Regions from separate parts of the Homo sapiens genome. Here region 2 is linked to region 1. A link means that fine-mapping ties the variant in region 1 to the expression of a gene that starts in the linked region. Tissue or cell type: lung. Region 1 holds a variant in brackets; the other region holds the start of a gene. All regions are shown on one strand. Distances are between the middles of the regions.

Region 1 (8,100 bases):
CATTCTGACCTACTTAGGGCTTCCCAGATTGTCCAGCTGGCTGGAGGCTCAGGCTTTGCTCATGTGAGTCACTCTCAGGCGTGGCCACCCCATCCCTTCTTACCTGACCCAGCGTTGGTGACAGGTCTCTCCCCACCCATGAGGCCTCCCAAGACTGGAAGTGCCTCAGGGTGGGGCCCCTGAGGCAGGTTAGCAGGGAACCCAAAGCACAGTGCGGTGGCCAGAAGCTGCCCTCCCACCGAGCGGCCTCCTGGCCCTACGGGGACACGGGCTGCAGGATAGGCTCCCTTCCAGGGTCACCCTCACAGCACCAGCCACCCCACCTCTGCTCCGTGCACCGTCAGGGCCCTTAGCATGTACATGTACATGTGCATGCCCACATGTGGGGGCACCTCCCTTTTCCCCAGCACCCCGTTTCTTAACATTTCACCCTGTTACCACTTCACAGAGCAGGGACAGAGACTCCAGGTCCCACGGCGGGCAAGCGCTGCAGCTGAGCTTTGTGCCCAGGCAGGCGGCCGGCTCTGTGGGCTTAAGGCCCTACTCATGGCTTCTTTGGGCCTCTGGGGTGACAATGCAGATGGGCGGCAATCAGCCCACAGCCACAACCCATCAGCCCTCAGACCAACCCAAGAGCTTGACGTCTCCCTACCCAGCCACCCACGGTCCTCACCGCGAGGAGAGGCCATAGGGGGGCGGCCCTGGAGGTCTTGTGCTGGCCCCTGGCATGGCTCACCGCCTGGCCCTGCTCAGCAGGGGGTCGAGGGAGTCCAGCCCCTAGTATCTGGCCAGCTAGTCGGAGGGTGAGTAGTTGGCAATGTTTATTGGGAAACAGCAAACTCTGCTGGGCACCCAGGCCAGCCGGGAGAGCACGGCCCTGGAAGCGGGGCCTGGAGAGGAATCCAGGGCCGTATGGCTGGTCAGGCAGCCAGGGAAGGCCTGGCAGGTGCACGGACCTGAGGCTGCCCAGATAGGAGGAGCCGGGGGTGGTAGAGGCCAGCTGAACGGTGGAGGCTGGCACTGTCCATGGCACAGGAGGTGGCCCTGGTGCTCAGGCCTCCAGGCTGGGGTCATCAGGCGGCAAGTACATGGGCTCGATGTGGGCCCACCCACGGGCCTGCTCATCGGCCCAGGCGAGCAGCTCTGCGGCGCGGTGCAGGAAGATCAGGAGCAGGGTGTGCACGTCGCCCTCGGCTGAGTGGGCTGCGCTTGGCTCTGCCCGGAAGTAGCGGTGGAAGAGGCTGCCGAGGCTGTAACCCTGGCGGCCCCGGGCCCGGGTGCCGTGGCTGTGGGCGCGGTCCAGGCCCCGCAGGGCCGGCAGCGTGTCCAGGCAGACAGTGTCCCGGGGCAGGCGGGCACCCAGGCGCCGCAGCTCGGCACACAGCAGGGGGAAATCATAATCAAAGCCATTGTGGGCCACAAGGCAGATGGGCCCTGCCTGGCGGCTCAGGAAGGCCTGCAGCGTCCGCACCACGGCGCCATCAAAGCCAGCCTTCCGGCATCGCGCCAGGCCCTCACTGCTCAGGCCGGTGATCTCGCTGGCCTTGGCAGTGAAGGGGCGCTCCGGGCACATGCACAGCGTGAGCTTGTCCAGGACCCGGGGCAATACTAGGGCACCAGACTCGTCGTGCTCCGGGTTCTCCAGGGAGGAGCGGTGGACAGCAAAGAGGGACAGCTCGGCAATCTCGGGCTCCACACTGGGGAGCCCAGTGGCTTCCAGGTCCAGGAAGACAAAGGTCTCGGCCCGGGGTGCCTCGGACATGGTGATGTTCCCACGGGGATAGCAAGTCCTCAAACTGTCCGAGCGAGAGGCACAAACCCTGAGGACTGGAGAGAGGGGTTCGCCCGGGCCCTGCTGTGTACCATCCTCCCCCTAGCCAAAGCTCTGACCCTTCTGGGGCTCACTTCCTGCCACCCCCGACCACAGCACCTGTGACCTTTGGCTCTGGGAGCGTCAGCCCCACTCCTGTCACCTACTGAACAGAAAAGGCAGGCCTCAGAGCGCTCTACTGCCTGCCTCCAGCCACAGTCCCCAGCAGGGATTGGGAGAGGCAGAGGCAGCTCAGGGACCGCACCTTGGCGGGGTCCAGCCCCTTCACCGGAATGCCTTGGCTGGGAACCTGGGGCATAGCACACTGGGTCTCCAGCCCTGGAACCAGCTGCCGGGAAGCAGGCAAGCAGCCACCCGAAAGAGCCCATGCAGTGCACCCAGCTCCCGCTGGGCTCGACCTCCCCACCCTTGTCCCTGGCACACAGGTGCTGGTCCCGAGCTGGCCTCTGCCTGCTTGCCCCCAGGCTCCCGGGGAGACTGTCCTTGCCAACCCCACCACACCAGCTTACCTGGGGCGGGCACTGACCGGCTTCCTGGGCTTCTGGGCACCTGTCGCCACACAGGCTGCTCTAGGCGGCCTTTAATCAGCGGCCGCAGCCCGCCCCCAGCTGCCTGTTGGCCAACAATGAGGCCTGGGGCCTCAGGACCTGCGCAGCCGGCTCGCTCGCCACCCCCTCGCTAGCTCACAGCCACTGAGACACACGCCCCGTGTTTACAAATTAGGAAGCAGGCCCCGAGCTCTTCACAGGCACGGGGAGGAAGCCAGAGTGGTGCGGAAGGCAGTAACCTCCACCTAGCCAGGCTGTGGCTGCCAGGCCTGGCAGGCCTGGGGTCAATGCCTCCCCCATGCTGGGGCCAATGCCTCCCCCATGCTGGGGCCAGTTACACAAAGGCAACAGGTCCTCTTTGCCAGGCCTCAGTCTCCCCGTCACTGGAGATCAGGTGCCGCTCGTGGGGATGAAGCGAGCTCTGGAGTGTGACCAAGGTGCCCACACATGCCGTGCTCAGCCTCCAAAGGGGAAGGGGTGCTCCCCCAAAACCTAGGGATGGGGCAGCCTCGGGAGATGCTATCTGCTTTAAGGACGTCGCTTCATCATGTCTACCGTGCACCTAACAGTGGCTGCTGGGGAAGGAAGGGAGGTGGGCCTGGCCCGGGAGCTGTGCAGGCCGCAGCTGAGCTAATGCTTCCTCCACCACAGATAAGCAACGTTAGGGGGTGGGCCAGGAGCGCCGGGACTACAGGAGGAGTGAAGCCCAGCCCCTCGGACCCCAGGCTCAGGGACCTGCCCTGTCTATCCCGCTCCAGGCAAAGGGCACCAGGTCCTTCCCGGTCCTGCGAGCAGTGGCGCCCTGAAGACCTCATTCTGGAGCAAGAGACAACAGCCCTTGATGGTGGGTGCACTGCAGGGCCAGCCCCATGCTGGGGGCACAGAGAGGTGACCAAGAGGAGTCCCTTGGCCTATAAATCAGGTGGTGCACCTGCACCATGGTGACCACAGGCCTGCCCGGCCTCCCACCTCTCACAGTGGTGGCTGGGGGATGCCTCAGGCGACTGGGATGGAGGGGGGTCTGGCACCTGGCTCCTCCTGGCCTCCTTGCCTTGTGTGCCCACAGGGACCTTGGGGAAGCAAAGGAGATGGTGCCAGGAGGGAGCAGGGTGGGGCGGGCAGCAGCAGGTACAATGGCCCCAAGGAGGCAGAGGCCCTACCAGTCACGCCTGTTCCGGTACTCACAGGGAGGGAGGCAGCTGTGACAGGCACACTGCTCAGGGAGATACTGGGTCACCCTGGGAAGCCCAGACAGCATCTTCCTGGACAACCAGTCAGGCTGAATTCCCCAGCCCAGAGCTGAGCGCCCAGCCAGGGAGGAGCAGGAAACTGGTACCCCGCGGGGGATCCAGGGGCACTCAAGGAGGGCGGCTGAGGGGTGCGTCTCGCACAGGACCCTAAGGCCAGCCGGGGGAGGCGACAGTGGGTTCTCTGCTTTCAAGTGGCTGGCAGCAGCAGGGAGGAGTGGAGCCACAGGAAGAGGACGCAGCCCAGGCCCGCCAAGATGACAGGAGGGCCGCCGCCAGCCTGCCCAGACCTGGGCCACCTGAGCAGCTCAGGACAAGGGGAAGGAGAGAGACATAGAGCTGAGGAAGCAGAAAGCAGGCTGGAGGCAACTGCTTAGAAACCAAGGCTTTCTTTGTGTCCAAGTCAAACCGCCCGTCTGTCTCTCCCTCCCCAAAGGGGCCAAAGGTCCCTGCCTAGAGCACAACGTGGGGCTGCAACGGCTTCTGCTGCCACAATCATCCATCCTCGGCCAACTCGATCTTGGGAGAGGGCTTCCTGCCCGCCCCATCCTGTGCTTTGGCGTAGGCCATCACTGAAGACTTTCTATTTCTCCATTAGTTCATTCATCTTGGTAGCTGCAGAGGAAAGAAAAGAAACCAAAAGGATGGTGGGAGTGTAAACTAGTTCCACCATTGTGGAAGTCAGTGTGGCGATTCCTCAGGGATCTAGAACTAGAAATACCATTTGACCCAGCCATCCCATTACTGGGTATATACCCAAAGGACTATAAATCATGCTGCTATA[C/A]AGACACATGCACACGTATGTTTATTGCAGCACTATTCACAATAGCAAAGACTTGGAACCAACCCAAATGTCCAACACTGATAGACTGGATTAAGAAAATATGGCACATATACACCATGGAATACTACGCGGCCCATAAAAAAAGATGAGTTCATGTCCTTTGTAGGGACATGGATGAAGCTGGAAACCATCATTCTCAGCAAACTATCGCAAGGACAAAAAACCAAACACCGCATGTTCTCACTCATAGGTGGGAACTGAACAATGAGAACACTTGGACACAGGAAGGGGAACATCACACACTGGGGCCTGTTGTGGGGTGGGGGGAGGGAGGAGGGATAGCATTAGGAGATATACCTAATGTAAATGACGAGTTAATGGGTGCAGCACACCAACGTGGCACATGTATACATATGTAACTAACCTGCACGTTGTGCACATGTACCCTAGAACTTAAAGTATAATAAAAATATATATATATAAAATAAATAAATAAAATAAACAAATAAATAAATAGAAAAGAAACCAACAGGAAAGCGAGCCTGGCGCAAGAGGCGAGGTGCCTCCTGCCCACCACTCAAGGCACATGTCCTCAGCTGATCCTCCTTGAGCCCCAGGCACCACCAGGATGGCAGGGAAGGGACAGGCACTGCCGAGCTGGGAGCTGCTCAGGCTCTGTGGGGACCAGGCCAGCAGCTTGGGAGCCCTGGGCTGGGTCACACCGACCGCAGCACAGTTCCGAGACCCAGGCCAGGGTCTGTTGACCCGGCTGTGCCCCCGCCCACCTGCCCCCTGCCCCCCAAGCCCCAGGGGCAGCACATGGCACACAGTGAGGAGGCAGGGGCTGTCCTGACTTCAGTGGCACGTTCAGTATTAACCAGATGGAGAACACTGCACACACAATAAACCCAATCACACAGACAGCCCTAAGCCTTGGCTGCCCGGCCCAGTGGCGACCGTGGTGGCTGCGCTGACCTTATCTGCCATGACCACATCTGCCTCTCAGTTGCCAACCCTAGACCATGGCCATCATCCCCCTCCCCCAGCAGACAGAGGAGGACACAGCCCCTCACCTGCCCTGCCTGTCCGCTCCCCATCCGTGGCCCCACTGTCAGCTAGACTTTGCCTTTTACATGTTGAAGTCATTAGCATTGACATTAAGTGCTGTGAACCCTGAATCTGTCATCCTCTGCCCATCCCGAGGGTGACTCTGAAGCTCAGGAATCCTGGGGTGTGCCTCGGGGTGACACCGAGCTGGGGAATGTGCTCAGCCCGCCTGGAATTGCGCCCCAGGACCCTCTCCACTCGCCATCAGCTTCCAGTGGCATCCCAGCAGAGGGGCTTCCTGCCGCAATGCGCACTGCTCTAGACTGTCTTCCTAGGCTCCGGACTGTGTCCCTCGTGTGGCATCTGCCCTTATCAAATCGTCTAGACCTCCATCCCGGCCTTCCTGCTCTGCCCTCACTCTTGGTGCAGGGCTTGGCAGGGTCCAGAGCCCAAGGCCGGGTGTGCAGGGCCCTCAGTGCTTGTAAGGCATCCTGGCTGCTCCTCTGAGGCCACAGGCTGTCTCTCTTGAAGCTTTGGCCCCAGCCCTTGGCCCCTGTACTCCAGATGGCAGGAGGTGGGTTCCATCTACCCTGTGCTCGGCGCCTGCACTCACCTGGCTTGTACTGTGTGCCCACCTCCTCCGGAGCCCTGCCCTTCATCTCCCCTGTCCCCTGCCCTGGAGACCCTGTGCCTGGCTGGGGCCTGTGTGATGCTGATCTTTGTGCTGGTTTTTCTCTCTGTTTTCTCTCTTCTTAGAGATCCCAGCCTCACTTCGTTTCTAGTCTCTTTGTGGCTGGGTTTTCACAGCTGTCCAAGCATGTCTGGATGTCGCACTGAGTGTATTCAGTGGTGTCGGAAAGTCCTTCAGGTCAGATTTCCTGCTCATCCAGGGCTTCCTTCTCTCCTGCATGGGGCTGCTTTTCGAGCCACAGGGGCTGGGAAGAGGATCTGGGTAGCTGCCACTGCCCCTGGTCTGCTGTGGTGGAGCCGTTGCCTGTGGGGTCTCTCTCTGGAGGACAGTTTGGAGGAGTTCCATGGAGGCGAGGCAGGGATCAGCTCTTGCCCCATGGACCCTCAGAGGCTGCAAAAAGGTAGGTTTCACCCGGGCTGCCGCCAGCCACATCAGCCACATCAAGAGACGAGCTGGGAGCCGCTCAGGCTCTGTGTGAGCCGGGCCACCAGCTTGGGAGCTGGTTTGCTTATTCATTTCCATCACTTTCTTCACAGAAGAACAGGCTAGGGTCTCGCCGGGGAGGTGGGCCTCTCCAGACCTGCTTCACCTGTGCCCTCTGCTTCCATCTGCTCACCACTGCCCTGTCCCTGGCACCCCGCTGCCCCTTGGGCTGTCCTCTAGGCTGCCACCTTCCCCGCCCGCTGAGCCCGTCACCACTGCCGGGGTTGGTGGCATCTCTCCACTGTTGGTACCCTCAACTCTCCTGTCCCATTCTTGCACTGACAGCATTGCTTCGGTTTCTAAATACATTGATGTTTTCATGGCAGTGAGGTTTCAGGAAGCCTGGGGGGCGACTCCTGGTGTGTGGTGCTGATCCACAGTGCCAAGGCCCTCCCAACTCACATGAGGCCATGCCCCCAGCAAGAGCCCAGAAGGCACACTGGCTGCTCCTCACTTCATAGGTGGTGCCGCACCTCCAACAGAGCCTGGCTGCGGGCATGCAGATCGCTGGGAGGTGAAACAGCACAGAAACACGGCCTTCCACAGCGGGAGGAGGGCCATCGAGACCACGGCCCTCAAGGGGTCAGATGGGAAACGGGACAAATAAAGAACTGTCCCGAGTGGCCTTTGGCGTGGATTTGATGCTGACCCTTTCTCTGGTGTGTCCAGACACTAAGAATTCATCTCAAGCCACATCAGGATGCTGAACTGATGGGAGCTGAGTTGAGAGCCCCTAGAGAGGCCGATGCCCGCCGTAGGCCTGCTCCCCTGGCGTCTCTCCAGACCCCCAAAGTGGCCGGGGCTCAAGGGTGAAGAGACACTTCCCTGTACACAACGCACTGCCCAGTTCACACGGCCTGGATGTAAAGGGTGCCTTTCTGGTAAGAACAGATACTACACTTGATCTTAGCCAAGAAGCGATAAGGGGCCTTTCTGAAAGGCAAGACCTGCCACCAGTCCTATGGTGCCACAGTCACAGGTGAGATGGCACACTGTTGCGAATACCAATGATCATTATAAGAATGATGGCATAGATTATAAGCAGTTTACTAACAGCAATTATAAAAACTGGGAAGAGAGTCATAGTGACTGGTGATTAGGATAAACGCTATAATACATTTTAAAGTGGAGGGTTCTGCTGCAGTTCAATTGGCAAGAAGAGGCTCCTCAGTGCCTGGTATACATGGGGTAGTTATGTGCCGAGGCCAAGAGCAGTGAGAAGCCTGGCTCTCCGAGGAGACGGCTGGCTGGAGGGTTCATCCAAAGACAGTCTCCAAAACTAGGGCTCAGAGGCTATGGACCTGAAACCACTACTTGGGGGTGCAACAGTGGAAAACATTTACAGCAAATGCTTTAGCTGCTGCTGCCTGAGGCAGTGCATAATAGCCGGGGCAAACAAGAGACTAAACAAGAAGCTCAGGAGAGGCTGGAAAATCAGATGTCCACAAAGGCTCTGGAAAGCTCTGGCA
Region 2 (8,100 bases), 23 kb after region 1:
GAAAAGGCGGCCCTAAATGGGGCTGACAGGGTGCGGTCACGTACAAAGAAAGGCAATGGGAAATTCACAGGAAAACTCCCATCCATCTGATTCTCCTGTAGGACCCTCAAAAGGCCTAAGGAATTCTCGCCAACCTGAAATCAGACAACGTCATCGTATGCTCCCTGGCAGCTTTTTCAAAGGATTCGGTTTCTGGTATTTACAGAAGTACTACAGGTTGAATATCCCTAATCTGAAAACCTGAAATGCTCCAAAATCCTAAACTTTCTGATCGCCGATATGACGCTCAAAGGAGATGCTCACTGGAGCATTTGAGATTTCGGATTTTCAGATTAGGGACACTCGACCAGTATAATGCATATATTCCAAAATCCGAAGAAATCGAAATCTGAAACACTTCTGGCCCCCAGACATTTTGGATATGGGACACTCAACCTGTAGAAGCATCTGAGGGGCGTGGCTTTGGCCTCCTACCCGTCCCTCTCTGGCCAGATGACCCCAGTTCCCCAAGTGCCCCCAGCTTCCACCTGAGTCAGGCAAATCTGCGCCCCCTCCCACAAGAGCCTCCTCCTGGGAGCTCGCTCAAGACCCTCACACTCCACCCAGCCATCTCCAGTCCTGCCTCACCTCCCAGCCTCCCAGGTTCCCAGGCCAGGGGCTGGTCCCTCCAGGGCCAGTAGTGGCTGCCAGACAAGCCATCTGCCACTCAGCGCAGGGCTCCTTCTGTCTTTCCCTGGGGTATTGGTCTCCCTGCCTGCAGCCATTGCCCTCCAAATCCATCTGCCACAGAGCACCCTGAGTCACCTTACCAAAATGCCAATCTCAGCACGTCGCTCCCCAGGTTCCACGCCTGCCCTGCCCAGAACATAAAGCTCAAAGGCCTTGGCACAGCATGCAAGGCCCTGAGGGAGCTGCCCTGAGCTGCCATTCCAGCTGCTGCTGCCCAGCTCTCTCTCCCACACCTCAACTCCCTGCTCCTGTCCAAACGAGCACCCCGCTGTTACCGTCCCCATCCCAGATCAAATGCCACCTCCTCCCTGCCAACATCCACAGCACCCAACTCAGACTGCAGTGCTGTGCATCATTTCTGCTGAACCCCAGGACTTGTACCCACTAAATACCCAGCTCCTGAGGACACCCAGTCACGTCTGCAGCGCGTGGAATGGCACACAGGTGCAGCCTGGAGAACCCCCCGACTGCACGGCCACACCATGCTGCGGCTCCCATACTAAAGAGCCGGAAATGACAGCAGGCCAAGAGTGCACCCACAGGTTGAGGGCTCCAGCAGGGGCAGGGTGTGCTCAAAGGCTGTGGGCATCCAGAGGGAAGCGGAATACATTCTGCCCTGGGAACAGGAAACATTTTAAAAGGAGACAGGACGTGTGAGTTGGGTCTTTGCGGGCTGTACAGGAGGACGTACGACATGCAGAGACTAGAAGGCCATTTCCAGGAGGGGGAACAATGTGAGCAAGAGCAAAAGGTTATGAAGCGAGGAGCTGCTGTGCTGAGCCCTGGGGAGAGGCCTGAGGAAGGGCCTAGAAGGCAGAGGCAGGAGACGCCTCTGGAACAGCAAGGGCTCAAACACAAAAACGCCTCCTCCTTCCTCTGGGGGCCTGTATCCAGCTGGGCGTCCTGCTGATGTCTCTGGTCCTGGCGGGCCAGACCGGCTGGATGCAGGTTGGCTCCCCACTGCTCTACTGCCAGGCTCCCGCCCAGGCCCCTTCCTCAAGCAGCAAGGGTAGGCAGGCCGCAGGCTGAGGAGGGGGAGGCCCGGGCCTGGACTCACGAGAGGCTCCTGTACCAACAGACTACAGCTGTTCCTGAGCATGGCCTGGGCACACACCCAATCCCACAGGAGCCTGTGCTCTGTGGGAGGCGGGGAAAGCCTTCTCCACTCACAGCTGTGAGGCAGTGAGACAGACCCTCAGCTCAGGGACTACGTCACCAGGGGAAGGATGTCTGCCCTGGGAATGGGACACTCTGGATCATTTCCTCCACCATCACTCAGGAAGTCACCCTGTCACCATGGGCTTCATAGGGTGCCAGGCACACACCATGCTACACCCTGGCCCAAAGGCACCAGAGGACTGGGAAACGGGTCACGGCACAGAAGCTGACAAGAGGTGACACTGCATGAGGACCACTTGGCCAGCTGAGACCCAGCCAGGAGCCCACGCCCTGGCCCTGCCTGTCACTCCTCCACTGGGAGACCAGAGACTGTTCATGCCTCCAGCCTGACCCTTGGCTTCCGGGTCTGAGAAGGAAAGGACTGGAATGGAGCATTTCTCAGGTGCCTGCCAGTCCTGAACCTCCAAACTCATAAGGCAAGGCAAACGCTGAGGGCAAGTTCAGCACTGCAGCAAAGGGGTGGCTGGACTAGCCCAGCACCGCCAGGGGCCACTTTGCCCCAAGTTTGATCATGCCTGTCACCAGTACTCCTTACCTACACAGCTGTTCTCACGAGGGTCCAGGCTAGGGGGTGGAGCCCTCTGGGAAGACAGCTACTCACAGTAACCACAAACCCCATCTTCCCCAGGTGGGGCTGGCTGGCGCCCATGCACACCCCAGGTGGGAAGAGGAAGAAACTGATGCATTACCGGGTACACATCCACTCTAGGATCTCCAAGCGGTACTCTGAGGGGCTGCACAGCAGTTCCTGAATTGTCTTTGGCTCTGTGATATACAGACCCTCGAGGAAGGGGCAGTTTAGGTCCTAAGCAAGGAAAAGGAAAGCAACATTCACTGAAAGTCCCAGTGTACATCATTTCATTTTATTTATTTATTTATTTTTGAGACGGAGTCTCACTCTGTCGCCCAGCCTGGATGGAGTGCAGTGGCATGATCTCGGCTCACTGCAGCCTCCACCTCCTGGGTTCCAGCAATTCTCCTGCCTCAGCTCCCAGGGTAGCTGGGGGATTACAGGCATGCGCCACCACGCCCGGACAATTTTTGTATTTTTAATAGAGACGGAGTTTCACCATGTTGGCCAGGCTGGTGTCAAACTCCTGACCTCAGGTATCTGCCCACCTCAGCCTCCCAAAGTGGTGGGATTACAGGCGTGGGCCGCCGCGCCCAGTCCTCAGTGTACATCTGCAAGCTCCCAGGACCCTTTCCTTTACCCGCGTCCTGCCATCTTGCCAAGAGTTCAAGTCCCCCCATTCTTAACCCCACATCTCCCGCGGCATGCAGACCCCACCTCTTTCAAGTACTCCCACTCTGGGCTCTTGTGGCAGCAGGACCTAGGAGCAACGCCTGAGACTAAGACTTAAGAGAGAGTCCTAGGTTTCGGGACTGAGGGAAAGGGGAGAGGGAAAGGGAGAGGGACCACTGAGCCAGTCGCGGACAGGATGGGGGAGTGTCTGGGGGGAGGAGCGAGCGGGCCGAGGGGACCTGGGACAGCTCCCTAACCTCGTGGGCCAGCTTTCCTCACTGCTGCAGTGAGGGCTCTGTCCTGTGGGGCTGTAGAGGGCTTCTGGAGGCTATCACCCCTGGCATCTGACACCAACTGACACCAAGCCCTAGTCTCGCTGACTTGACAGAGTGGCACGAGGCTCTGCCCATCTGTCCCCCCAGACCCCGCAAGATCCCTAAGGCCAGGCCTGGGTCCTCTGTGTCTGCACTTGCTCCGAGCGCCCAGCGCGGGTACTGCAGTTCCACAGGCGGTGCTGGCCCCAACTACCAGGCACGGGCCGTGGAGACAGCAAGAACGAAGGCCTGGGGCACACCAAAGGGCAAAGATGAATGATCCACAAGCACCCCCTGCTGCAAGGGAACAGGGCGCAGCCGGAACCGGCGACGGTGGCCGCGTGGCGCCGCGGACTTCCGCAGCAAGCCCTCCCGGGCCTCGGGCGGGGCCCTCCCCGGTCCCCCGCCCTGGAGTGGCTTTCTGGGCCAACAGCACCTTCAGCTTCCCGAACACCTCCACAGCCGCCCTGGACACGCTGCTGTCGCCCTCGTCCTCTGAGTAGTCGTCGCCGCCACGGCCGCAGCCAGCGTCCTGCCCCGCCATGTTTCGCGCTCCGAGCCGCGCCCCGCCCATGCCCTGGCTTCACTGGCCGGCAAGACCGCCAATCAACCTCCAGCGTTCTTCCCGCCCACCCGCCTGCGCCCACCCCCTTCCCGACCGACCCTTCCCATTGGGCGACATCTCCGCCTGCGCGGGCCCCGGGCTCCCACCCCCCGCCCCGGCACCACCCAGAGGCAGGACCACAGTGAAGCGGGCAGGGCGGACACAGGGAAGGGGGCGGGGCGGACACAGGGAAGGGGGCGGGGCGGACACCGGGAAGGAGGCGGGGCGGACACCGGGAAAGGGGCGGGGCGGACACCGGGAAGGGGCGGGGCGAACGGGCCAAGCTGGCTCTGAGTCGCAGGCCTTGCTGGCGTCGCCCCTGCTGCCGGCCGGGAATGATGATGCGTTGAAGCGAGGCTCTTCCAGGAGGGGGCGCTCCTGCCTTGGTCGGGTTCTCCTGGGCCACCACCACTAAGGGGCACCCTGGTTCCCAGGAGGACCAAGGGGAGCCTTGGGTGCAGAATGGAACTCGGACTGAAGCGTTCCTCTCCCAGCGCGGGGCTCCGTCTTCTCTTCACCATGCTCACGCTGTAGTTAGAAGGAAATTTCTTGTCACTCACCAGCTGTGTGCCTTTGAACCAGTTACCTAACCTCTCTGTGCCTCTTTGCCCTCACCTAATGGAGCTAATGAGAGCACCTTACCCACTGGGTTGCTAATGAGGATGGCAGGCGGTAATAATTCCTGTGGAATCCCTAGAACAGTGCCCGGCGCATGCGAAGAACCACGTAAATGCTCACTATTGTAATACATGCTGGGCCCTGCTCCCCTCACGGCTCCTGGGGCTACCTGTGGCTCCTTCCTATCCTGTCTACTTAACAAATTTTTCTACATCCCTCAGGACCCTCAAACTCAATGCGTCTGCAATGAAATATGTCAGTCGCTCCTCCCCCAGACCTGCAAAGCCCCCAGTTCACTGAATGCCCCTTACCCAGGGACCTGCTGATTGGGCAAGGCAGGAAGGAGTTGGAGGGTGGCTTGTGCCCAGTAGCCAGGAGACAGCAGCAGGCAGCTGCCACTGTGCCCTCCTCTGTGCCCTACCCTGCCATCTCCTGGAGGGTGGGATCAGGGGGCAAGTCTATAGTCAGGGAGACCCAGGGACCTGCTGGGAGGCAACTGCAGTCATCCAAGTGACAGGAGGGGACTTCACTCCGTCCTGGGAGGAGGGAGCGGGCAGGAGTCCGGGGGTCACAGGAAGGGACCTCAGCCTGGGAGGCCCCGACACAGGCCCAGCGAAGTGCCTCAAGGTTGCTCTCTACCCTTCCACGTGGCTGCTGCCTCAGGCCCTTCTGGTAGCTGAGGGCTGTCAAAGGCTTTGGGATTTTTTTTTAAGCGTTTTTTTCCCTCTTTTTTGTTTTTGTTTTTCTTTCTTTCTTTTTAGAAAATTTCATCTCAATCACAGCCCCAGCTCAGACATTCAAATTCTTGTGGGTTTTTCTGTGGATCTTTCCTAGGACTGGGGAATTTGGCGGAAGAAACCACGGCAGTGTGGCAGCCTCCCCCAACCCTCCCCATATTCTCTGCTCCTGAGGACCGGGAAGAAACCAGCTCCTGTGTACTCTGGAAGAAAATCTCCCTCCTCCACCCAGCTCCACGGAGCCAGTGTGCTCAACAGGCCTCCCCAACCTCAGCAGTTCAGTCTATGGGACCCTGAGGAACTGGCAGGGCCTTGAGAGGCGAAGATCATCTTGAGAGGTTATGGAGGCCATCCCCCTCATGGAGAACCTGTTGGCCAGCCCTCAGCCCCTGGAGATGGTCGCTGAAGACCCAGCAGCAGGCTGCAGCTTCCCTGCCCACGCCACCCCACCACCCACCACCCACCACCCACCACCTGCCACCCACCACCCGCCCCCAGAATCATAGCACCTCCCAGGCATCTTCCTCCGGAAAAGCTGGAGGCTGGGGAGGGAACAGAGAGGCTGCTGGGCCTCTCAGGAAGGGGGAAAGAAGGGGCCCAGAGGTAGAAGCTTCTGGAAATGTGGACTCAAGCTCAGTCCAAGAAAGCACTCCTCCCAGAAATCACTGTCTGAACACCAGCTGGCTGCCAGGAGAGGAAGGGAGCTCCCGGTCCTAGAAGGTCTACAAGCCCAGGGAGGTGGGTGGGCGGGGATGTGGAGGGTTGAGTCCTACCATGGGGGAGGGAGGGGGCACATCTCTAAGGGACATTCCAACCCAGAGACCCCAGGTTCTCTGAGGGAGGCCTGGGTGGGTCAGGAGCCAAAAATGTGGCTGAAGGACCCATTGACCTGGAGGAGGGATGTTGGGGGGAAGCTGTGGATGTGGCGGGGAAGCTGGGGGGTCCTGGTCATGGAGGAAAGTTGGCCATGCGTCCCAGCAGGGCCTCAGCCGTGTCAGTGCTTGGAAAACACGTTGGAAAATGAGACTGGTTCACGGCACTGGCCCCGCTGTGCCAGAGATGGGCTGGCGGGTGCTGGTGGCATTCGAGACCTCTCAGTTTGTGTGGTGGGCCCAGAGATATATGGCCAAACAGTTGAGCTCACCAAGTGGGCAGCCTCCCTGACCTGTGGAGGGTATTGAAAAAGTCCTCAGAGCATCCGGGCCCTGCTCTTCATATGACCTTAAGGGCAGACCCCACGGTGCAGCGGGAATCAACCAGGGACCCCCCAATCCCCCAAAGACACCGCGAATCAAAGGAAGCTGAAGTCCAAGGGCTTTCCTCTCTGCAGAGGCGGGTCTGCTTCTGGCAGGGGCTGGAGTTAGACCTGAGGGGGAGCCACCCCACCTGGGGGCGCCTAGGCCCTAGAATGCTGTCAGAGCTAAAGCCCTAGAAGGCCTTGCTCCACGGGGCCACTTCGACTCCCGGCCCTGAACCAGGGAACCTGGGGAGGAGCCTTTGAGGGACTGAAGTGTCCTCCATCACCCCCCACCCCTGGCCACTAAAGTTCCTCAGTAAGGGTGGAGAGTACCAAATGCAAGCTGTTGAAGACAAGGCAAGTGTGTGCGTGTGTGTGCGTGTGTGTGTTTTGGGGAGAGTTCAGGTCTAAGATGAGAAGCTGATCACACCCATGCGAGAAGCAAGTGGTGAGCCCTGGCATTGGGTTTGAGGGAGAAATGTGACAGAGTAATGAGGTCAGGCTCAGGACGGTCTGAGTGTGAGGCTCTCCGCAGGCAAGGCAAAGCCAGGGGGCTGCCTCTGCCTCCCCTCCCCTCCCTCCCCGTCCTGTCCTCCTCTCCCTCTTCCTTCTCCTCATCTCCTCCCTGTCTTCCTGGGACCTCTCTGCTGCTAAGCTGCCAGGCTGAGCTGTTGGTCACCCATCCACCCTGCATCCTGGCATGCAGGCTCAGTACCCAGGTCTTGCGGGCAGCCCACGCCATCTGCACCAGCCAGGAGCCCACCCGAAACCCAGCCCTATCCTTGCAGATGGGGGAAGGGATGGAGAACACGAAAGCAGGGGTGGGGGCCTTGCAAATGAGACAAGGAAGTGGCTGTAAGCTTGGGGGAGCCCTGCGGCCTGTGGCCCTAACTCTGGAGGGACCACACTGTCAACCTGGGAGCTGCCTGAAGACTCAACTCTACAACGTTCTCCTCCTAGGCCTCCGTGTTCATCTTTGGAGTCTACTGGCATATGAGAATGGAGAGGCTGCCTTGGGACCTTGGCTTCCTCTTCCTGTCACTTCTAGTCCCTATGCTGGGCCTCCTGCTTTAGGGCCCCACCCTCACCTCCTGCAGTTGAGGGGCCCTCACCTGCCCCATCCTGCCCCCAGGCCACCAGCTCCTGCAAGAGCACATTCCGCAGCGCAGTCAGCATGGTACCACCATCGCCATCACCATCGCCTCCAGTGGGCCTGGAGGTGCTACCATCACCTACCCCGCCCTGTCCCCCAGGCCACAGGCTCCTGCAAGAGGGCAGGGCCTGCGACCTAGGGCGACCCTTGCTCTGAGGCCAGAGGCAGTTGTAGGGGGTGTGGACAGAGTCTGGCTGGCAGGGAGGCAGTGGCTCAGCGGTCCATCTTTGTCCTCCTGCCCCGGGCCCCAAAAATGGGAGGGATGGTCTGGGGCCCTGGGGACCTT

Evidence for each region. PIP is the estimated chance that this variant, and not a neighbour inherited with it, causes the effect.
Region 2: HAUS7 starts here. The variant in region 1 is fine-mapped to the expression of HAUS7 in lung (TOPMed, PIP 0.98). The same link has a PIP of 0.9 or more in breast.

What each region holds. Positions count from the first base shown.
Region 1 is chrX:153,443,669-153,451,768 of GRCh38, forward strand. It overlaps TREX2 (three prime repair exonuclease 2), which reads right to left and starts at 2,388. Exons shown (of 2, transcript NM_080701.4): 1 at 2,341-2,388; 2 at 805-1,827. The coding sequence starts at 1,762. The coding sequence ends at 1,052. HAUS7 (HAUS augmin like complex subunit 7) reads right to left here. Exons shown (of 10, transcript NM_001385482.1): 10 at 4,000-4,241. The coding sequence ends at 4,210. The variant C/A (reference allele first, on the strand shown) is at 4,411.
Region 2 is chrX:153,466,549-153,474,648 of GRCh38, forward strand. It overlaps HAUS7 (HAUS augmin like complex subunit 7), which reads right to left and starts at 4,028. Exons shown (of 10, transcript NM_001385482.1): 1 at 3,902-4,028; 2 at 2,598-2,713. The coding sequence starts at 4,009. RefSeq lists enhancers at 3,320-3,499, 3,650-3,749, 4,263-4,557 and a silencer at 4,080-4,389.